Linked DNA regions of Homo sapiens. The protein of the gene in region 3 purifies or fractionates together with the protein of the main gene of each other region. This does not show direct contact. Each region holds a gene or a part of one and is shown on either strand. Other genes may lie near its edges.

Region 1 (7,651 bases), on a different chromosome or scaffold from region 3:
TCTCCTGAGTTTCTGGCTGGGGGAATGTTGTAGGAACTGGTGCCATTCATTTAGATAGCACTTAGGATGATAGCACTTAGAAGATTGCCTTCAGCATGGGGGAATAGGTTTGAGGATAGAAAGTAGTTTTAGATTGTGAATATTTGTATATGAGTTGCCTCTGGGACATTTCAGGTAAAGTTTAGAGAAAACTATATGCTGATGTTGCCCAGGACCACTGTCTAGGCTCAAGATAGACTTGAGTCATCAGCATGCATCAACACATATGTGAAGCCCCCCAGTAGTTAAGGAATCAAAGAATGTTTGTAGAGGGGAAGAAGTCTTAAGTACTGAGCCCAAGGAGAACATTAGTTTTTAAGAGGCAGCAGAATGGTAAGCTGAAAGGCCTGGTTATTATTGTCAAGGGCCACAGAGAGATCAAGTCAGATAGGAATCAGTTGGATTTTATAAGGGGTTATTAGTGACTTTGAGAAGATTAAGACTAGAGAGGCAAATATTTTTGTATTCTATGGCAAAGGAGATGCAGTCAAAGTAGAGACTGGGGAAAAGGCTGAAAAAAGTCTGCAAGAAGAAAAATCAATACTTTTCATTGAGTGATTACTGGATGTCACATACAGATCTAGGCAAGCCCAACACCCTGGAGTCATCTTCAGTTTCTCTTATCCCACATGTTCACCCATTAGCAAGTCTCTCTGCTTCTAATATGTTCCAACTTAATCGTATTTCTTTTCATCACCTCTGTGGCTAACATCCTTTTCTAGCCTAGACTTAATGTAATAGTTTCCTAAGAAGTCTCCGTTTCCAGTCTTGATTTGATAATGTATTTACCATACTGCAGCCAGAATGACATTAAAAAAAAGTAAATTGGACCATGTTCCCCTTACTAACAGTGAACTTTCCATGGCTTTCCATCAAACGTAAGGTCCAAATTCCTTATAACTGCCTGCAAGCTACAAAGTGAGGCCCTTAAAGTAGCATCTTACAGCTTCTTTGCTCTCTTGATTTGAGCCTTACTTTCTGTTGATTGACTGTAACCCCATGTGAGTTGAGGAGCATCTGTATATGTTGCTTTCTGAGAGTCACACTACTAGGTTAAAGCAAAGTCAATGATACATGTGGCTCTTGAAATAATTTTACCATTTAAGAAAACTACCAAATCCCTAGAGTTTGTAGGCAGTTGGCAGAAAATAAAAGTGTTCCTGCACTTGTCTTTGATCTCCCTAATTGTGTAATCTCTTACATCATTATTTTTCCAGCTACCACACCTATATGTTGTGACTGCACAAGTTAAAAAAGTTTCAATCTCTAATGTTAACTCTTGGTAGTTGACATAGCCATCTATTAGATTGTATCTGGGCTTTGAACAGAATATTTAGTTGGGTTTTATTAGAGTTGTGTGCTATTGTTAGAGGCTAGGAGAGGGCCAGGTACACTTGATTGTGTATGTATTGATTGTCTTAACCTCCCTGAGTGCTAGATTTAACTTCTGGTCTTTTTTTATTGCACAGCTTAACATTTTCTAGGAATCTCAAATTCTATATGGTGTTTGAATCTTCTTCAAATTAGTAGGAGGAAATCTGTAATGGTCAATGTGTAACAATTAAACTCTTCAGAATATATGAGCTGATAATAATGATCATTTATTAAGTTCTATAGACCAGGAACTAAAAGCTTTACGGTACAGAGATGCTACATTAGATTGCCTACTTTTGGGAGGAGGGGCAAGAGAAGTGGGGGAGATATTGATCCTTTTATAAGGAAAAACTCCAATATTATATCCGTGTTATCTTTCCTCCAAATAGCTTCTGACAATAAGTTACTTGATTAAAAATTATGTTTTAATTAGAATTTGATGGCTTCTTACAAACTTTTACTGACGCTCCACATGTTTGTTTTTGTAGGAGCTGACTAAGGCTTTGGAACAGAAACCAGATGATGCACAGTATTATTGTCAAAGAGCTTATTGTCACATTCTTCTTGGGAATTACTGTGGTAACGTTTCTTATAAAGTATATTGCCCCCTTTTAATAAGTTACTTATACATTTTACCCATGACAAATTAAAAGTTGTCTTTGAGAATTTTTAAATTGGTCTTTTATACAAGGTAAAGTAGCTCAAATGTGACAGACATGTTGAGCAACACCCATTTAAATTTTATGGATGTCGCTTTTTCCTTCATTGGGTGGAGAATGTATACAGATTTCATTCATAGTTATTGGGTATGCTGATAAAAAATAGCATCACATTTACTATTTGACAGACTATTAAAATGAAATGCTCGTTTAAATTTTTTTTATAAAAAAGAATGTGGCCAGGCATGGTGGCTCACGCCTGTAATCCCAACACTTTGGGAGACCAAAGCAGGAGGATCATTTGAGCCCAGGAGTTCAAGACCAGCCTGGGCAACATAACAAGACCACCTGTATTTAAAAAGTAATGTATTTCTGTATTTTGTACCTTCTGAATAGGGAAAAACTGAATACCTTGAGTAAAATTACATAGAAAATGTTAATGAGACAAGGAGGTGAATTTTGTGACACAGCTGTATTCATTGAAGAGCTTTAAGAAGGAAGCTAAATGTTAAGCCAAAAGGAAGGTACAAGAGTAATATTTATTTGAATTCTATCTTGTATTAGCTTTTCCTAATTTAAAACCATTTGGCATTTCTACCAACTTGAAAACTTAGAAATCTAAAACTGATTCATATGTTGTGTGTATTTGCTAGGATCTATAAATAACTGACTAAAAACCCGTCTTTTTCTACACAGTTGCTGTTGCTGATGCAAAGAAGTCTCTAGAACTCAATCCAAATAATTCCACTGCTATGCTGAGAAAAGGGTATGCAGTAGCTACTCTTCTTGTTGAGCTTGGTATAGATAGTAGGTATTTAATTTGTTGAATGAGTTCATTGCAAGCTTTATATAAGTTGTAAAATTCTGTATTTATACATTATATAGCAGAGATATGATTCAATTTTAAATACAACTTATAGTTCTATTATTTTGTTAACCAAAGTATGTGATAGGAGATCTGTACTTAGTAAATTTTAAAATAGTGATGATTGAAGTATTTGCAAGGTATAGATGAAACTGATAGATTTCACATTGCTTTTTTTTTTTTTTTTTTCAATCTTTTGGAATTTACTATATTTAATTGACTGGACAACATCCTATTCAGCAAAGCTGAATAGGCTACATTTAATGCTATGAAAGCGCTATATCTGTATACTTTATATCCCATCTTGTTTCTGTTGATAAGTATAACTATTCTTTAAGAAACTTCTTTAATTCCTTTGTATAATTATATTTTTGAGTAAGCAAGTCTGTACAATTAAAGTCAGATTCCTTCTGAAGTGAGTTCTAAAATTGAATTTTAGTAGGAATTGTACTAGATCTTAACAGTATATTAGAAAGTCTCTAGGTTTATTAACATACACTTAAAATAAATTTTTTCTTTCAACAGTAGAAAATACTAAGTTTTTTATTTAGAAAGAAGGTATTTTCCAGATTTTTTGTGTGTCTTAATTTGTTTTAAATATATTCATGCAGAATATGTGAATACCATGAAAAAAACTATGCTGCTGCCCTAGAAACTTTTACAGAAGGACAAAAATTAGATAGTAAGTATTAAAAATTATACTTTAATAAACTTATCTATTTCTGTCTTAAATACCAAAGCTGAATTTTGGTAATGTTAATTTCAAGTTAATTGTAGAAACCCAATACCTGTTTTTCTCATCTAAATTATATTTCATATTGATTGCAGATATGAGATCACTTAAAATCGATTAAATTAGCCTTTTGGCATTTAAATCATAGATGAACTTCACCATTAGAAGTAAAAAAAACTATGGAAACACCTAACATGCTCTCTCTGTTTAGTCTGGCTTTGTTTTTTTCTAATGGAGAAGTGAAAGTTTAATTTGCCTTGGTCAGAAGTCTGTTCATTTTAAATTATTCAGATTGCTGAGATGTGAAATCTTAACATTAAAGGTTTTTATGGAGAAGTGAAGTGTACGTTTGGGTAAATTATGAGAGGGTACAGAAGAAACACAGTTTTGAGAGTATTGTGACTTTTAATGTTATATTCTTGAGGGAATATATGAAAAGTATCACAGTGGTGTGGATATCTAGACATATAGAAATTGTGAGAGTCAAGAATATATATATATATATATATATATATTTTTTTTTTTTTTTTTTTTTTTTTTTTTTTTGAGACGGAGTCTCACTCTGTCGCCCAGGCTGGAGTGCAGTGGCGCGATCTCGACTCACTGCAAGCTCTGCCTCCCGGGTTCACGCCATTCTTCTGCCTCAGCCCCCCGAGTAGCTGGGACTACAGGCGACCACCACCACGCCCGGCCAATTTTTTTGTATTTTTAGTAGAGATGGGGTTTCACCATGTTAGCCAGGATGGTCTCAATCTCCTGACCTTGTGATCCACCCTCCTCGGCCTCCCAAAGTGCTGGGATTACAGGCATGAGCCACTGCACCCAGCCGAGAGCCAAGAATTTTTAAATCTGAAAAATACTAAGAGGTTGTGAGTAATTTCAGAAAATTGGAGACTACATAATCCTACTTGTATTATCATTTTATCTTTATGTTATGATAGAGTTTTATCACAGTTCTCTAAAGAAGTGGTTCTTAACTGGAAACGGTTTTGCTTCCCAGGAAACTTTATGCAATGTCTGAAGAGATTTTTGATAATCATGAATGGTGGATGGGGGTTGTGCTACTGACATCTAATGAGTATAAACCAGGGGTGCTACTAAATATTCTATAATGCCCAGGACAGTTCTGCCTAACAAAGAAGTATATGGTCCAAAATGTCAGTAGTGCTGAAATTAAGAAACTTCACTCTTAGTATTTTATGTTACATTCTTACTCTGTACTGTTTTGAATGTTTGCCTTTCTGTTGTGTACCTATTCAGAAAAAAGGATTTTAGCACTGATTATGCAAATGGAAGCTACAAATTAAAAAAGGAGAGGTCTGGGTGATAAGGCTTATTCTCAAACTTGCTTATCCCAGTTTTGGTATGTGAATAGTAGGCCTATTCAGTCAGCAAACAGGACATCTGCACTCTTAGCAAATTCTAGAGTGAAGTTATGTAGTGCCTTGGTACCTAATGTGAAAATCCTGAAGAAACATGAGTCATACCATTCTCTACATTTTCATTTTTCTTTCTTTTTTTAGCGAGAGAAGGTCTCGCTCTGTCGCCCAGGCTGGAGTGCAGTGGTGCGATCTTGGGTCACTGCAGCCTCCACCTCTTGGGCTCAAGTGATCCTCCCACCTCAGCCTCCTGAGTAACTGGGGCTACAGGCACATGCCACCACACCTGACTAATTTTTGCATTTTATTTTTTGCAGAGATGGGGATTTGCCATGTTGCCCAGGCTGGTCTTGAACTCCTGGACTCAAGCGTTCTGCCTGCCTCGGCCTCTGAAAGTGCTGGGGTTACAGGCATGAGCCACTGCGTCTGGCCCCTAGATTATTTTCTTGAGTAATATCTTAATATCATGCCATTGACATTTATTCTTTAGTTATTTCAGAGGTGGCCTTCAGAGGAAGACCTGTTTGGTAAAATTGCTGTTGAGGATATTTTACTTAAAAATAAATTTGTCTTTAAATCCAGGAAACTTTTTTTGTTGTTGTTTTTTGGGGTTTTTTTTTGTTTTTGTTTGTTTGTTTGTTTGTTTCTTTTTTTGAGACTGAGTCTCACTGTGTTGTCCAGGCCATAGTGCAGTTCTCTGTCTCTCAAGTTCAGGTGATTCTCCTGCCTCAACCTCCTGAGCAGCTGGGACTACAGGCATGCACCACCAAGCCTGGCTAATTTTTGTATTTTTAGTAGAGACGGGGTTTCATCGTGTTGGCCAGGCTGGTCTCCAACTCTTGACCTCAAGTGATCCACCTGCCTTGGACTCCCAAAGTGCTGGGATTACAGGTATGAGCCACCATGCCCGGCCAAAATCTGGGAAAAAGTTAAGTTAAACTTTTAGGCTTCTATTTTTATCAGACAGGGTAAAGAATTGTTACCTTTTCCCCTCTTTGTGTGATAAATTGCTTGGTTTTAGTTACTGATTACTTAAAATAATAGGTTACTCAAATCTTTTTGATATAATAGATTTTGATACAATAGTTCTCTAGAATACAGTGTGTGTGAGAGTGTATTTAAATTTTTTATTAATGCTGGTATAGTTGGATTTCTTTTATAAATTAGTAAAGTAGAAATTTTTGTTAAGAAATTTTTAATTTAAGATTTTCAAATTTATCTTGTCTGCAGTTAACTTGAATTAATAAGCTCTTATTTAGAGTACTTTTAATACTTTTAACATATCTTACTATGCACTGTGACTGTTTAAATGTAATCATTGTTCTGTGTCTCCAGAAGTGAATAATTTGTTTATGCATACATTTACACTGTTATCTATAAATATATAATACATCACCTATAGCCTCTCGACTGCCATGTAACTTGGAGATAGGACAAAACTTCACGGAATTTAAAGATGCTTGGTGTTGGTAGGAAAGGCATGGTAACAGATAAAGCCACTGAGAGAATAGTGGACTGAATAGGTATCTGCATTGAAGAGCAAGCTGGGGCTGGGAACGGCTTTTGAACCTCAACTCAGCTCCCAGTTACCAAGCCTCCTCCCCACCCTAACTGATGGCATATTGGGAGTCTGATTTACATCTGATTTTGTTCTGTGTGTGAGGAAGCTTCTCTAAGAGCAGCGGGATTGGGGGAAATGCAGATTATTTGTATCTGTGAAATTAAGGTTGACTGTAGTTAAAATTTTTAAAAAATCAAAATGTTTCATGATTAACAACTAAATGTTAAACTATTGGTATATTTATAACTATAGTAGAGTTGGTGATAAGGTCTGTTAAGACAGGTTTTGTTCGCTGCCGACTCCCCAGTGCCTAGAACACTGCCTGGGATGTAGTAGGTATTCAGTAAGTATTTGTTGATTTATAGGTTGTGCAGATGAGTGATGTTATAGTCAGTTTTTTCTTTCTAGGTGCAGATGCTAATTTCAGTGTCTGGATTAAAAGGTGTCAAGAAGCTCAGAATGGTATGTGGGTCTCCCTTGGTATTTGTTTCAATTTAAAAAGAAGTAAACATCTGAAATTTTTTTGGTTTAAACAAATTTGTTTTTATCTTTATAATTTCTTTTAAATAGTATACGTTTCCTTAGATGTGGACTTCCAAAGATACACTGGTTTTTGCATAGCTTCTTATGTTGAAAGGGGGATTTGGGTGGATTTGCTTGTATGGTATATCAGTAAGAAATTACTAAGGAGTCTAAAATGAATTCAGGATGCAAAATGAAACCACTTTTCTTTAGTTGAAAGGTACGGAGAATTTGCTTGCTTAATCAGTATGTTTGTGCTATAGAAATCATACAAATAACTTTGCTTAAAAATGCACTGTTCCCTGAAAATGTTTCCTTTTTATGTTTTAATAGGCTCAGAATCTGAGGTGGTAAGTCCAAAGTTTTCATTCTTCATGTTTTTATTATTTTAAATTTCAGCTACCAAATATATTTGAGACAAGACTCAGGATGAGCTGTCTGATATTTAAATATTAAGCAATTCCATTTAAGTGCTGGTTCCTCTAGGCACTGAAATAAAATCATTTTTTGATAAATATA
Region 2 (7,651 bases), on a different chromosome or scaffold from region 3:
TTTCACTGTGTTAGCCTTGATGGTCTCAGTCTCCTGACCTCGTGATCCACCCGCCTTGGCCTCCCAAAGTGCTGGGATTACAGGTGTGAGCCACCGCGCCCAGCCTATCATCAACATTTTTCTAGTTTTCTTTTTTTTTTTTGAGATGGAATCTTGGTTTGTCGCCCAGGCTGGAGTGCAGTGGTACGATCTGAGCTCGCCACAACCTCCGTCTCCTGGGTTCAAGCAGTTCTCCTGCCTTAGCCTCCTGAGTAGCTGGGACTACAGGTGCCCACCACCACGCCTGGCTGATTTTTGTATTTTTGGTAGAGACGGGGTTTCACCATGTTGGCCAGGGTGGTCTCAAACTCCTGACCTCAAGTGATCTGCCTGCCTTGGCCTCCCAAAGTGTTGGAATTACAGGGGTGAGCCACCCCTCCCAGCTCTAGTTTTCTTCGTGATTGTCTTTTATAATCATAATGTAATACTTTATTATGTTAATTCACCATAATTTGTTACACACTCCCCTATTAGTAATTGGTAAGTTGTCTTGAATCTTTTTCATGCTCTGTGAATGTGGCTTTTTTGATTTAGAGAGTTATACTGCAAGAAATGTATATAAATGGTTGGTTGACATGCAATGCAAACACTGTACTAGTTTGATTAAAATGTTCCTTAGTGGTTTTGTTGAAATGGCTTTGTGTTTCTTTGGGATGACTAAAGCCTTTTGGAATAACAAAATATTTTAAAAATCCAAGACATAGTAAGATCTTATCTCTTTTTTAAAAAAAAAAAAAAAAGCCAGACATGGTGGAGTGTGCCTGTGGTCCCAGCTACTTGGGAGGCTGAGGTGGGAGGATTGCTTGAGCCTGTGAGGTCGAGGCTGCAGTGAGCTATGATCTTGCCACTGCACTCCAGCCTGGGTGACAGAGCGAGACCATCTCCAAAAAAAAAAAAAAAAAAAAAAAATCCAGTCTCAAATTATAAATACTTGTCAAAGCCTTTTTTCTTTTTTCTGAGACAGAGTTGCACTCTGTCCCCCAGGTGGCTGGAGTACAGTGCCAAGATCTCGGCTCACTGTGTCTTCCACCTCCCAGGTTTGAGTGAGTCTCGTGCCTCAGCCTCCTCAGTAGGTGGGACATCAGGTGCATGCCACCATGGCCAGCTAATTATTTGTATTTTTAGTAGAGACGGGGTTTTGCTATGTTGGCCAGGCTGGTCTTAAACTACTGGCCTCAAGTGATCTGCCCACCTTGGCCTCCCAAAGTGCTGGGATTACAGGTGTGAGCTACCGTACCTGGCCTCCAAGCACTTTTTTTTTTTTTTTTTTTTTTTTTGAGGCAGAGTTTTGCTCTTGTCACCCAGGCTGGAGTACAATGGCGCGTTCTTGGCTCACTGCAACCTCTGCCTCTTGGGTTCAAGCAATTCTTCTGCCTCAGCCTCCCAAGTAGCTAGGATTACAGGCATGCGCCCAGCTAATTTTTGTATTTTTAGTAGAGACAGGGATTCTCCATGTTGGTCAGGCTGGTCTCAAACTCCTGACCTCAGGTGATCTTCCCACGTCGGCCTCCCCAAGTGCTGGGATTACAGGCGTGGCCCAGCGTACCTGGTCTCCAAGCACTTTTTATTTAATTTCTACATCACTTTTTTAATGTTTGGTTTTGGTGGTTGGATTTTTTAAATATTCTATTATAAATTATGTTTCACAAGTGAGGTCACCTATATGCTGTTATGCACTTTGTTATTTCACAGAACATGTCTTTATCACCTTGTGTAGTTTCGTGTTGTTTTTTGGCCCACGTTAGTATACTGCTTCACTGTAGTTCATTTGACCTATCTAGTTTACTTTGATGAACATTAAGTGGTTTTCCAGTTGCTCGTTTTGCTTATAGTAGTAAATTTAAACATTTCTGCTATAAACACCTTCTTTGTTTAAAGAAACATTATTTAAATGAACATTTCTATAGTAAAAAAGTAGTGATAGCTTTTCTCAAATATATATCTCACCCTGAAGCTGGTGTGAATTGTTTCAATTTCAAGACGCTTTAAATTCTGTTATAAATTATATTAACATAAAATGAATTTATGGGGTTGTTTTGTTTTGTTTGGAGACAGAGTCTTGCTCTGTTGCCCAGGCTGGAGTGCAGTGGTGCAGTCGTAGTTCACTGCAGCCTCAAACCTAGGCTCAAGCAATCCTCCTGCCTCAGCCTCCTGAGTAGCTGGGACGACAGGCAGACACCACCATGTCTGATTAGTTTATTTTGTTTTTGTAGAGATGGGGTCTTGCTATGTTGCCCAGGCTGGTCTTGAACTCCTGGGCTCAAGCAATCCCCCCACCTCAGCCTCCCAGAGTGTTAGCATTACAGGTGTGAGCCACCATGCCCAGCTGCAAATTTTTGATTATATGAATTATTAAGCCAACTTTCTCTTACACCTGAAATACTTTTCAGTCTTTTACTGACATGTAATACTAACCTTTTTTTGGTTTATATTAAAAATGAGTACCTCAGTAGTGATATCTTAGTTGGAAATGAAGTATAAGTTTATATCAGACTTACAGAAAATCTCTTTCTTTGAACTTTTAATAACCTGCATCCCAATTGGGTTACATTTAATTGTGTTTATTCTAGAACATGACCTTTGACCTGCCATCAGATGCCACAGTGGTGCTCAACCGCAGCTCCTGTGGAAAAGAGAACACTTCTGACCCCAGTCTCGTGATTGCTTTTGGAAGAGGACATACACTCACTCTCAATTTCACGAGAAATGCAACACGTTACAGCGTCCAGCTCATGAGTTTTGTTTATAACTTGTCAGACACACACCTTTTCCCCAATGCGAGCTCCAAAGGTAAGAACCAAAATGGGCCGATTATGAAGTGATAGAAAATTGGGTTGGAGGATTGTCTAAAGTTACTTTTACCTAAGAAGTACAGGCTGGGTGTGGTGGCTCACACCTGTAATCCTAGCACTTTGGGAGGCTAAGGCAGACAGATCACTTGAGGTCAGGAGTTTGAGACCAGCCTGGCCAACATTGCGAAACACTGTCTCTACTAAAAATACTAAAATTAGCCAGGTGTGGTGGCGGGCACCTGTAATCCCAGCTACTCGGGAGGCTGAGGCAGGAGAATCGCTTGAACCCAGGAGGCAGAGGTTGCAGTGAGCCGAGATGGTGCCACTGCACTCCAGCCTAGGCGACCAAGTGAGACTGTCTCTAAAAAATAAAAAACACACAGCCAGGCGCGGTGGCTCACGCCTGTAATCCCAGCACTTTGGGAGGCCGAGGCGGGCAGATCATGAGGTCAGGAGTTCGAGACCAGCCTGATCAACATGGTGAAACCCCCTCTCTACTAAAAATACAAAAATTAGCTGGGCGTGGTGGCGCGCGCCTGTAGTCCCAGCTACTCAGGAGGTTGAGGCAAGAGAATCGCCTGAACCCAGAAGGCGGAGGTTGCAGTGAGCCGAGATCACGCCACTGTGCTCCAGCTTGGGCGACAGGGCGAGACTCTGTCTCAAAAAAAATAAAAAACACATAAAGTAAACTAAGTACTATAAGTAGTTTGCAATTGTGATTTTTTTTTTTTAATCTAGAAATCAAGACTGGAATCTATAACTGACATCAGGGCTAAAATAAAAAACACATAAACTAAGTACTGCAAGTAGTTTGCAATTGTGATTTTTTTTTTTTTTAATCTAGAAATCAAGACTGTGGAATCTATAACTGACATCAGGGCAGATATAGATAAAAAATACAGATGTGTTAGTGGCACCCAGGTCCACATGAACAACGTGACCGTAACGCTCCATGATGCCACCATCCAGGCGTACCTTTCCAACAGCAGCTTCAGCCGGGGAGGTAGGACGCTGACCCTTGGCCCTCTGGTGCTAGTGGTTGGGTAGCTGGGCTGCAGTGGCTGCGGGTGACCTCACTGCTCTGTGTCCTGGTGCTGGGCTCTGCCTGGAACGCGTGTGCACACAGCCGGCGACGTCTCTGCAGAACGTTCTCATCCTTCTTCCTAGGGCAGGTGACTTGTAGATGAGGGTAGACACATGTTGATTAAAAAGGGTGGAATATTGAAGTGAAATATCCCGGGACAGAGACAGATGTTGTGTGGTCTCCCGTGGGAGCTAAAGCAGTGGGAGTCGGCGGGGGGCGGGTAGAGAGAGAGGTGATCACCAGGGGCTGGGGTTAAGTTGGTCAGAAGATAGAGCGTTTCCGGAAGACAGGAGGAATTAGTACAGCATGTGACTGCAGTTAATAATGTATTCTGGCTTGAATATTGCTAAGTAGATTTTAACTCTTCTCACCATAAAAAAGTAAGTGTTTGATTTTAGCTGTCACACATGTAGGTGTATTTCAAAACATCCTGACACACATGGTAAACGTATACAATTATTACTTGAAAATGTCAGAAGGGCAAAGCAGTTGAAACCTTTGTGCTTCTACTGGGGCAGAGATGATGGGACCAGGGTCACAGATCTCTTGCAGTTTGAGCCAGTTGCCTTCACACAGAGACATAGTCTTATCTCCATCCAGCTCTGGCCGGCCAGCTTAGGGACAGGTGCAGAAAGACCAACGCTGCCTCTCTGAGGAGGTCAGGGCTGCGATGATGTACCTGCTAACCCAGCCGCCGGGCTCTGGGGTCAGGCAGGGTCCAGGCCACCTCCTAGCCCTGTGATCTTGAGCAGGGTAGTTTACCTCTCATTTTCTTTGCATGTGGCATGAGATTAAAAGCCTGTCTTCAAAGGTTGTTGGAATTAAAAGAGAAATGTATGCAAAATGTGTATCTCAGCATCTGGCACAGAGTTAAGTAGCAAGCACCTGGTAAATCCTGTTACTTTTGAGGAGCTTCTCTCCCGAGCCTCACAGTCCAGGTCATAGGTTGTTGTCATTTTGCTGAAGCGTGAGGGCCTGTGATTTGCCTTAGGGTGAGCTTTCCCGGCTGATAGAAATATGTATGGAGACATCCCTTAGGGTGGGCTTTCCTGGCTGCTAGAAATATATGGAGACATCACAGCCTTCTCTAATCTTGAGAGCTACTGTGGAGACCTTTGGTTTGCAACATTCCTCAGCAGTCTTGCTTAAAGGCTGAGGAGTGACTGCTGGGCTCCACAGGAGGATCGTCCGTCTCACTCCTCCCCGAGGAGCAGGTACTCTTGCAGGTCGGCACCCCATGGTGCTGGGCCGGTCTTGCCCACCTCCAATTTCCATACAGCCCATGAGCTAAGAACGGCTTTTCGATTTATAAATGTAACATACCAAAAATCAGAAAACGAATATTTCTTGACACATAAAGATTATGTAAAATTCAGTGTCCATAAGTTAAATTTTCTTGGAACACAGCCACACTCATTTATTTACACATTATCTGTGGCTGCTTTTGTATTAACAGTGGCAGGGCTGTGTTGTCTTGACAGAGAGCCACGGCCCACAAAGTCTGAAATATTTACTGTCTGTAGCTTTGCGGCAGACTTTGCCTTCCCTGGTGAGTGGGTGAAAAGGAGCCCAACTTGGAAACCCCGGGTGTGACTGGGACTTGATGGGGCCACGTGGGCTCCCATAGGGGAGGCTTGGAAGGAAACACACTTAGGAGCTGGGTCCTCTGTAGGTGCTGCTGCCTTTAATCCTCAACACAGGGCCCCGGGGGCCGTGGTGACAGCCGCTTTCCTGGTGCAGCCTCTGTTCACACGGAGCCTGGAGTCGTGTCTGCTTCATCAGGAAGAGCGGGCTAGAGTCCTCTCACATGGGCCGCGTGTGTCTGAGGACGGACGCCTGGCAGCCTGTCTAGGTGTGTTCATGCTCTCAGACACACCTCAGCCAGAGCTAAAGATAACTTCAGCTAGGGGCAGTGCTCCCTACCAAGTGGGAGTTAGCGTAACACATGGGGGTGACTAGTGTTCACGGTTATCGATTTCCAAATTATCTGGGCTCCACACCTAGCTGGCTACCTCTGGGCTGCATCAATGTGGCTTGAAGAGGAAAAGGAAGGGCACGCACTCTCTGTCAGAGCTTGGGAAATGAGAGAGAATTGGATGCTGACCTTGTCCGGGGACTCCCTACTGGCTAGGCCTGGACACGGTTGCAGAACGTGTCTCCTCCCCATGTCGCTCTGTGACCGAGGGGTGCGCATGGCATGACCGCTCACTCACTCCTGCCTGGAAGTGAAGGGCTGCTAGGTGGAGGTCAGCAAGGATGTTGAGTGCCCTGAGACGGGTGGCAGGATTCTCTAGATGAAAAATAAGGCTTCACAGGTCCAGAGAAGCTTGCTAGGTTCTTTTGAGAAACCTGTTTCTTCAGGTTAATAATTACTTTTAAGATAGACTATTTTTTAGAGCAGTCTTAGGTTTCTGTGTATTCTCTGCCGCTGCGCATGTACAGCCTTCCTCTGTGTCCAGATCCTGGACGTTGGTTCCTTTTTTAATGGAGAACACGCATGTGATTCCAAATGGAAAAAGGCCCGACAGCCCAGCCCTGGCCACTTGCCCCTCCTGGAGGCAGCCAGTGTGGAGATGCCAGTGTGCCTGGGGCGTGGCCTCCTAGAGGGAGTCAGTGTGGAGATGCCGGTGTGCCTGGGGCGTGGCCTCCTGGAGGGAACCAGTGTGGAGATGTCGGTGTGCCTGGGGTGTGGCCTCCTGGAGGGAGTCAGTGTGGAGATGCCCGTGTGCCTGGGGCATGGCCTCCTGGAGGGAACCAGTGTGGAGATGTCAGTGTGCCTGGGGTGTGGCCTCCTGGAGGGAGTCAGTGTGGAGATGCCCGTGTGCCTGGGGCATGGCCTCCTGGAGGGAACCAGTGTGGAGATGTCAGTGTGCCTGGGGCGTGGCCTCCTGGAGGGAGTCAGTGTGGAGATGCCCGTGTGCCTGGGGCATGGCCTCCTGGAGGGAACCAGCGTGGAGATGCCGGTGTGCCTGGGGCGTGGCCTCCTAGAGGGAGTCAGTGTGGAGATGCCCGTGTGCCTGGGGCGTGGCCTCCTGGAGGGAACCAGTGTGGAGATGCCCGTGTGCCTGGGGCGTGGCCTCCTAGAGGGAGTCAGTGTGGAGATGCCCGTGTGCCTGGGGCGTGGCCTCCTGGAGGGAACCAGTGTGGAGATGCCCGTGTGCCTGGGGCGTGGCCTCCCGGAGGGAGTCAGTGTGGAGATGCCCGTGTGCCTGGGGCGTGGCCTACTAGAGGGAGTCAGTGTGGAGATGCCCGTGTGCCTGGGGCGTGGCCTCCTGGAGGGAACCAGTGCGGAGATGTCGGTGTGCCTGGGGCGTGGCCTCCCGGAGGGAGTCAGTGTGGAGATGTCGGTGTGCCTGGGGCGTGGCCTCCTGGAGGGAGCCAGTGCGGAGATGCCCGTGTGCCTGGGGCGGGGCCTCCTGGAGGGAACCAGCGTGGAGATGCCCATGTGCCTGGGGCGTGGCCTCCTAGAGGGAGTCAGTGTGGAGATGCCCGTGTGCCTGGGGCGTGGCCTCCTGGAGGGAACCAGTGTGGAGATGCCAGTGTGCCTGGGGCGTGGCCTCCTAGAGGGAGTCAGTGTGGAGATGCCCGTGTGCCTGGGGCGTGGCCTCCTGGAGGGAACCAGTGTGGAGATGTCGGTGTGCCTGGGGCGTGGCCTCCTAGAGGGAGTCAGTGTGGAGATGCCCGTGTGCCTGGGGCGTGGCCTCCTGGAGGGAACCAGTGTGGAGATGTCGGTGTG
Region 3 (8,484 bases):
GCCATAGGGAATTATTTTCAGTCTTTGAATCCGGATCAAGGAACTTCAACATTTGCCTGGCTGGATTTTGGAATTGCTACAGACTCGTTGTTGCCTCTCATTTTTCCCTTTTTGAACAGGAATGTTTACAGTGGTTATTTTACACCTGTCCACCACTGTATTTTTGTGTCGGGGAGGAGTGGGAGGCAGATAACTTGCATTTAGTTCACAGGTCTTCACACTAAGAGGAACTGTACTTGAAGAACTTTAAGGAACTGCATCCTAGGAATCTCACCCACACCTGGATGTAATTTATATGCTAACATTCTGGATTTCAAGCTGCTTTTCTAAAGGGATGAGATTTTTGGGGTTCTTGGGAGAAAGGGAATGTGTTTTGCATGGAAGAAATAGAAATAATTTGTGGTCAGAAAGTATACTCCTCCCTTCAAAAGGTGGAAGCTAATTCCCCTCCCCTTGAATGTGGGAAAAATAAAAGCAAGGGAAAAATAACAGCAGGTACACATGTTAGGATTCCATTTTGGGGATATTTAGCACACAGTGCACCCAGGTGGAGAAACTTGATTCAGATTCTGATTAGACTAGTAGGTTGATGGTCTTTAATTAAAGGTCTGATTTTACCCTATAGAAAGTAAAAATCCAGTGATGCATTTTAAGCAATGGTGTTACATGTTTAGAAAGGTCCTCAGGGAAACCAGATACCATACAAATGAATTCAGTGGAAACACATTTGCTGTAAATCCATAGTGGTCCACTTTTTCATATTTCAGTCATCTGGGGAAACTTTGTTTCAGCTCCATGTTGTTTCAATTCCATGCGTTAGCTTTAATTAGCTGTGGTATCGTGAGCAAACCATTTAGTTCTTCGGGGCCCTGGAGCCTCAACATAGTCCTCTAAAATGGGGACAATAAAACCTACCTCTTAAGTTGTTTGGGGATAAAATAAGAGGATGATAATAATATGTCTGGCACCTTGTTGTTGGTGAATAAGTTGTAGTGATTATTACTTAGACTAATGGAGCTCAACAAGGTGATATTTGGCAATATCTGGAGACATTTATGTTTTTTACCACTGAGGCTCAGGGGTTGGGGGTGGTGCTACTGACGACCAGTGAGTAGAGCCCAGTTGCTACTAAACATCACGTAATGCACAGGACAGCTCCCCAGAACAAAAAACCATCTAGCCAAAAATGTCACTAGTGCTGAGGTTGAGAAACCCTGATTTAAAATATAACCCAAGCTGGGTGTATTGGTATAGGCCTGTAGTACTAACTATTCAGGAGGCTGAGACATGATTGCTTGAGCCCAAGCCCAAGTCCACCCTGAGTAACATAGTGAGACCCCATTTCTAAAAAATAAAATCTAACCCAACCATGAGTATGTTAATATTGTTCCCGTGTTATAGCACCCTTTTAAATAATGAGTCAGAGTTAATAACGGGGTGCAATAAAAAAGAGATCTGATAGTTTCACAAGATCTCAGGGCTTGGTGAATGTAACTCCAAATCTTCCTGAAACCACCCTCCATCACCCTAATTCCTAAATGCCCACAGTCATTCCCACCGATAATTTATCTCTTCCTAGTCTTCTAGCCTTCAATTTCCTTGCATCTGAGATCCACTCTTAAACTCTTCGGTGACTTACTTCTAAGGAATATAATGTGGTAGCAGTGATGCATGTCACTTACAAGATTACGCTATATAAAGGCATTGTGGCTTCCTCTTTGCTGTCTTTCTCAGATCATTTGGTTGGGAGAAGCCAGCTGCTATATTGTGGGTATGGCAAGTAACTCAGGCTTTCAGCCAGTTGCCAGCAAGAAACTGAGATCTGTTGCCAACAGCCATGCAAGTTAACTTAGAAGTAGATCCTCCGGGGCTGGGTGCGGTGGCTCACGCCTGCAATCCCAGCACTTTGGGAGGCCGAGACGGGCAGATCATGAGATCAGGAGATCGAGACCATCCTGGCTAACACGGTGAAACCCCATCTCTACTAAAAATACAAAAAATTAGCCGGGCGTGGTGGCGGGCGCCTGTAGTCCCAGCTACGCCGGAGGCTGAGGCAGGAGAATGGCGTGAACCCGGGAGGCGGAGCTTGCAGTGAGCCGAGATGGCTCCACTGCGCCCCAGCCTGGGCGATAGAGCGAGACTCCGTCTCAAAAAAAACAAAACAAAACAAAAAAAAGAAGATCCTCCAGCACTAGCCAAGCCTAAAGAAAAAAACCTTCAGACAACTGCAACTTCATGAGATAATCTAATCCAGAATCACCCAGCTAAGACTCCTAAATTCCTGAACCACAAGAACTGTGAGATATTTATCTTATTATTTATCTGTTGTTGTTTTAAGCTCCTAAATCTTGGAGTAATTTGTGACACAGCAATAGATAGCTAGTATGCAATGTGAAGTTGTAATTAAGTATATAGTAATTGCAACAACATAAATTGATGATTGAATCTTGGAAACATTATGCCGTGCTTCCATTGACAGTAAAAAGTGGCAGTAAAGATGGATATTGCAAATTATATTTGTCTTAATTATAAGAATAGGGGAGAATAGTGTGCCACTGAAGTTTTCTTTTATGGAAGAATTTTAAACATGCACCATGTAGGGGTGGAAAGATGTGATACCTTTCCTCATCCATCATGAGTCATGGCTGACACTCTTATAACAAAAGAGCAGATTAACACAAGGAAAGCATAACAGATTTATTTAATCAGTTTTACATGACATGGGAGCCTTCAGAATGAAGGCTCAAAGACCCAGGAAAAGCTGCCTATTTTGATGTTTAGGTTTGATGCAGAGCAGACAGCCAGGCAGAAATGCGATTGGGCAAAAAGGATATGATCAACCTAATGGTAATAGAGAGGAGAAACCTGGCAAGATGTGTCTGTTCAAATTCTTCTTGGCCTCTCTGTGTGGTATTCCTTCCTCCAGGATACGGTGCAGGGCCACTCTGGAACAAAAGTCTTGAGAGCCACTATCAGACAAGGTAGGTCAGAGAACCTCTTTATGGCTGGCTCCTACAGAAAGACACGGCAAGATTAGAGTAATATTTCTAGATTTTATGACTGGCTTTGGGGGCATAGGGGCTCTAGTTTCTTCTTTTTTTTTTTTTCTTTCTGAGACAGAGTCTTACTCTGTGGCACAGGCTGGAGTGCAGTGGTGCAATCTCGGCTCACTGCAACCTCTGCCTCCCAGGTTCAAGTGATTCTTGTGCCTCAGCCACCCAAGTAGCTGGGATTACGGGCGTGTGCCAGCACATCCAGCTAATTTTTGTATTTTTAGTAGAGATGAGGTTTCACCATGTTGGCCAGGCTGGTCTCGAACTCCTGGCCTTAAGTGATCCACCTGCCTTGGCCTCCCAAAGTGCTGGGATTACAGGCGTGAGCCACCATGCCCAACAGTGGCTCTAGTTTCTGTGACCCATTTTGAAAAAGAGGAATTCTAGTTTCTATGGCTTGCTCTGGGGAAGAAAGGGGAGCAGGAGAAAGAAAGGCAGGAGAAGGTCAGAAAGATCTTCTGACTCTCTTTTCTTCAGTTCCAAGTATTCAACATGCCAAAGTGCCACACTTTGGGGTCTCATTTTCTGAGGCCCAATAATCATTACATTTCTTTTCTTTCTTTTTTTTTTTTTTTTAAGATGGAGTCTTGTTCTTGTTGCCCAGGCTGGAGTGCAGAGGTGTGATCTCAGCTCACTAAAACTTCCACCTTCCGGTTTCAAGCGATTCTCCTGCCTCAGGCTCCTGAGTAGCTGGGATTACAGGCGCCCGCCACCACGCCCAACTAATTTTTGTATTTTTAATAGAGACGGGGTTTCACTTTGGTGGCCAGGCTGGTCTCGAACTCCTGAACTTGTGATCCGCCCTCCTTCGCCTTCCAAAGTGCTGGGATTTCAGGCGTGAGCCGCCGCACCTGGCCTAATCATTACATTTCTTTGAAGTCTTTCCTTAAAGCTCTTCCACCCTCATTTTCAGAATACTTATATAGCAGATCTGTGGTTTTGGTCTGCCTAGCGTTTTCTCCTTCTGGTAAGAGAACACCTCTTCTCCCTTTGGCATCTCCAGTCCGTGTTCGTCATGTGACTTCACTGGCTCTTCCTTAGGGATGGGTTATGAAATCAAACTTGTCAGTTGGGATCCTTTATATCGGGACCCACACAGATGAGCCAAGATGTTCTCTCTCAGGATTCCTTGGGCATGCTCTGCCCCAGGGAGTTCTGATAGGAAGGCTTTATTGACCACAGCTGAAGTGCTGTTACAGAAAAGCCTAGACTTAGGAGCAAATAAACTCAGCTCTCATCTCGGTTATCTGGTGGTTGGGCTGAGAGGAGAAAGGTGCTCCTCAAGCTTGGCTTCTCCAGCTTCACCGAAGCCAGGGATCCACAGGAGAGCGCCCGTGTTGACAGCGTGAGCGGCGACCCGGTGTCGGCCTGGCGTCCCGAGCCTGTGCACTGGGCCGTTTTCTTTTTCTTTTCTTTTTTTTTTTTTTTTTTTTTGAGACGGAGTCTTGCTCTGTTACCCAGGCTGGAGTGCAGTGGTGCGATCTCGGCTCACTGCAACCTCCGCCTCCCGGGTTCAAGAGATTCTCCTGCCTCAGCCTCCCGAGTAGCTGGGACTACAGGCACCCGCCATCATGCTCGGCTAATTTTTGTATTTTTGTAGAGTCGGGGTTTCACCAATTTGGCCAGGCTGGTCTTGAACTCCTGACCTCAGGTGATCCGCCCGCCTCGGCCTCCCAAAGTGCTGGGGCTACAGGCGTGAGCCACCACGTACGGCCAGCACCGGGCATTTTTCTTACTTTAGCCATCCCGTGTTTGAGGTTGCTGTCTGGGCTCTGCTCCTACCCGAGGGCACCCCTGGAGGAAATTCTCGAGGTGACCTGGACAGGGCGGGCTGGGCGAGGACGCTCCCGGGGCCTGGAGGCGGAGTCGGGGGCGGGCGCGCGCAGTCATCTGACTCGGTGACTCACCCGCGGCCGCGCTTCCTCTGATCCGGGCCGGGCGGGAAGTCGGGTCCCGAGGCTCCGGCTCGGCAGACCGGGCGGAAAGCAGCCGAGCGGCCATGGAGCTGTGCGGGCTGGGGCTGCCCCGGCCGCCCATGCTGCTGGCGCTGCTGTTGGCGACACTGCTGGCGGCGATGTTGGCGCTGCTGACTCAGGTGGCGCTGGTGGTGCAGGTGGCGGAGGCGGCTCGGGCCCCGAGCGTCTCGGCCAAGCCGGGGCCGGCGCTGTGGCCCCTGCCGCTCTTGGTGAAGATGACCCCGAACCTGCTGCATCTCGCCCCGGAGAACTTCTACATCAGCCACAGCCCCAATTCCACGGCGGGCCCCTCCTGCACCCTGCTGGAGGAAGCGTTTCGACGGTGAGCGCTCCCGGCCCGGCCGGGAGTTGTCCTGGGGGAGGGGAGAGGCGGACCACCCCGGAGCGCTGTGCAGACCCTCACCACCCCACTGCGCAGACGAGAAACCGCCTGGGAGCTGGCAGGCGATCTGCCCAGCGCCACATGGACTGAACCCACGCTCTTGCCCCCACCCTCCTACTGCTTCTTAAGGGACACCTTGGGTGCTCAGGAACCCTGGTTTGAGAGCCGGATAGTAAGTGGAAGAGGGAGTTTGCTCTGAGGCCTTGTTGGGCAAATGGCATGGACGGAGGGGACACCGGAGCTGGGGAGGAAAGTGACAGCTCCTTATTTGAAGGACGTGCAAAGGGATAAGTTACCCGAAGGGCTTAGACAAGCTCTCTTGAGGGACCAGGAATCCCCCAAAGCTGACTGTCATTTATAGGCCAGTTTCGCCCCCTCACCTCTCCTCACATCTCCTGGTAACAGCTCAAATGGCAGAAGTCCTCAGTTTCGAGCACTGCCTAAAACTGCCCTCTCTCCTAAAATCTCTTCCATATAAAATGTGACATGTTTGCATCTGACTACGTTTCTGCGGTCAGTGGTTAGGCAGTATCCAACTTTGTTTCTCAACACCGATCATGTTGCCTGCTCTCCCTGCTTCCTCTTTTACAGACCCCTAGATAGCGCCTCTGTCTCTCTCACCCTTTGGCTGCAGACAGGGTGAGTTTTGTCATGGGAGTCAGCCAATCACACCATAGACAAGGCAGGTTCCCCTGGGGAGATGTTTGAAGACGCCACACACTGTCCCCTCAGTGTGAGACCTGTGTAGGTGGGACTGTCCTGAAGGCGTATCGTGCCCTGCAGAATTGTAATTTGGTGCTAACTGTACTGCCTCCTGGCATTCCCCAAGCCTGTCGCTGTACCCAGTGGATACTATAGAGCTTAAGTGTGCTTGCAGGACCCTGAACAGGTGGGGAGGGAATGTCAAACTAACTGAATAATGTGTTCTGACCCCAGATAGGACAGGTGCCTAGGCTCAAGCTGCAGAGGCCCAAGATGCTGATGGCAGAAATGGTTCATTCTCTACAATCAGAAGGCTCATGGTTTCCTTCTGTTTTGTACAACTAAATGGGTATTATCAGTCTCTATTTTAGACACACACACTAATGAGCCTTTGGTATCCAATCTGCTAAGGCCAGAGTGGGGTTAAGATGTAGAACCAAAGTGTTTGGTTGCATTGGGATATTCAGAAAGATTGCATGGAAAGTACATGAAGGTTGTCTCAGAAGATCATGACTAGGGTTGGAAATCTTTTTAAAAACAAACACGCTTATTATGTTTGCCTTGGAGTTCAGCTTGTAGAATTGGATTTTCCTTCTGTGTCATACTGCTAAGTAAAACAAGGACTTGGTAATATGCTGAACTGACTGTGACAAGAAAGCATGGGTGATGTAAGTTAACAATAGGTAGATAACCAGGACTTAAATCAGCTGAGATGGTTCGAAGGCAAGGCTTGGTATTTCAAGGCATGTGCGGGTGATTACCTGAAGAGTTTGCCTAACTCATGGCCTCTGAGTGAAGCAGCCATTAATTATGCCTGGTATTATTAGGAAGCAGGTCATAAAATGTGTTGGCCCTTATGGCTAAGACTTGAAGGCATGCATGTGAGCATTCTAGGAACTCAGAAGGAGCAGCAGGTATCTCAGAGTAAAAGCACAGTGGAGTTGGAAAGATTTGGAAATATGGGAGTGTTCACAAAGTGCGACGTGGTCAGGAACACACAGTCTAGGCCCCAGATTGTTCAGCATCACATAGCCCCTGTCTCTGAAGAGCCCAGGTTGTATCACAAACCTTGCTTTGAAACAGTATGCTTTTTGCAGGCAGAGAGTTTGGCTGTTAGATGCATAGCTGCTTCTTTAGCTTCTAGAACAGCGTTCATCACATGCTAGTCACTCATTTTTAAAAATAAACAAATAGCTTCACTCCTTCATTTCCTGGAAGGCTAAACTAACCCACATACCTTTGACATACTGCCTCACAGCCCTTTGAGTTTTCTGTTAGAATTTTACTACCTAGGGTCAAGGTTCTAAGCCAGCTTCCAACTCTGATCTCAAAGCTGCCAGCAGCTTTAATTTCTTTTTTAAAAAAATTTTAATTAAGGAAAAAATACACATAACATAAAATTTACCATCTTAACCTTTTGTAAGTATGTATTTCGGTGGTCTTAATTTCCTTTTTAATCTGTCAGGGTTTTCCTATGAGAAGGGCCCTCAACACCTACATCCATTCCATTCTCTCATTGGTTAACTTCCATACACTTCCAAACATGTCAGAATTTTCCGACCTCTTCTGCAAAAAAGCATAAGACGTTCTTACACATAAGTAGCATATATAACCTTCTGGCTTACCAAAATCTGTAAAATATTATTTAAACAGTTGCCCTGAAGCCTATCTGATCTTTTTTATTTAGTGCCTTTACATTTTTATTTAATATTCTGATTTTTGGATACCAAAAACAATTGCTCTGAAGCCTGTCTGATCTTTTTTATTTAATGCCTTTACATAATTTTTATTTAATGCCTTTACAGAATTTTTATGTATTTAACATTTAATGCCTTTACAATATTTAATGCCTTTACAGAATTTTTATTTAATATTCTCTGATTTTTGGATACCAACAAAAGGTACTTTTTTTGTATTTAATATTAATATTAATATTTAATGCCTTTACAATATTTAATGCCTTTACAGAATTTTTATTTAATATTCTCTGATTTTTGGATACCAACAAAAGGTACTTTTTTTTTTTTTGAGATGGAGTCTCGTTCTGTCACCCAGGCTGGAGTGCAGTGGTGCGATCTTGGCTCACTGCTGCAACCTCCACCTCCCGGGTCCAAGCAGTTCTCCTGCCTCAGCCTCCTGAGTAGCTGGGATTACAGGCGCCTGCCACCATACCCAGCTGATTGTTTGTATTTTTAGTAGAGACTGTGTATTTTTAGTTTCACTATGTGGGCCGGGCTGGTCTTGAACTCCTGACCTCGTGATCCTCCCGCCTTGGCCTCCCAAAGTGCTGGGATTACAGGCATGAGCCACTGCAGCTGGCCAACAAAAAGTAAATTTTAAAGGCTCTGGTGAGAATTCTGGACCTTCTTTT

Evidence for each region. Proteins that work in one complex are often made in the same cells at the same time.
Region 1: the proteins of HEXB (region 3) and SUGT1 purify together in Homo sapiens (affinity purification with mass spectrometry; 2 studies listed by BioGRID, with this or other methods). This does not show direct contact.
Region 2: the proteins of HEXB (region 3) and LAMP1 purify together in Homo sapiens (affinity purification with mass spectrometry; 2 studies listed by BioGRID and IntAct, with this or other methods). This does not show direct contact.

Annotation. Positions count from the first base shown.
Region 1 is NC_000013.11:52,655,631-52,663,281, forward strand, and holds part of SUGT1 (protein SGT1 homolog), read left to right. Parts: intron 1-1,901; coding exon 1,902-1,992; intron 1,993-2,468; exon of another isoform or gene 2,469-2,577; coding exon of another isoform or gene 2,578-2,596; intron 2,597-2,768; coding exon 2,769-2,838; intron 2,839-3,548; coding exon 3,549-3,619; intron 3,620-5,844; coding exon of another isoform or gene 5,845-5,940; intron 5,941-7,018; coding exon 7,019-7,072; intron 7,073-7,465; coding exon 7,466-7,482; intron 7,483-7,651. UniProt on the Homo sapiens protein: May play a role in ubiquitination and subsequent proteasomal degradation of target proteins.
Region 2 is NC_000013.11:113,307,034-113,314,684, forward strand, and holds part of LAMP1 (lysosome-associated membrane glycoprotein 1 precursor), read left to right. Parts: intron 1-2,609; coding exon 2,610-2,829; intron 2,830-3,675; coding exon 3,676-3,834; intron 3,835-7,651. UniProt on the Homo sapiens protein: Lysosomal membrane glycoprotein which plays an important role in lysosome biogenesis, lysosomal pH regulation, autophagy and cholesterol homeostasis.
Region 3 is NC_000005.10:74,680,209-74,688,692, forward strand, and holds the start of HEXB (beta-hexosaminidase subunit beta isoform 1 preproprotein), read left to right. Parts: upstream 1-5,024; 5' UTR 5,025-5,052; coding exon 5,053-5,351; intron 5,352-8,484. UniProt on the Homo sapiens protein: Hydrolyzes the non-reducing end N-acetyl-D-hexosamine and/or sulfated N-acetyl-D-hexosamine of glycoconjugates, such as the oligosaccharide moieties from proteins and neutral glycolipids, or from certain mucopolysaccharides.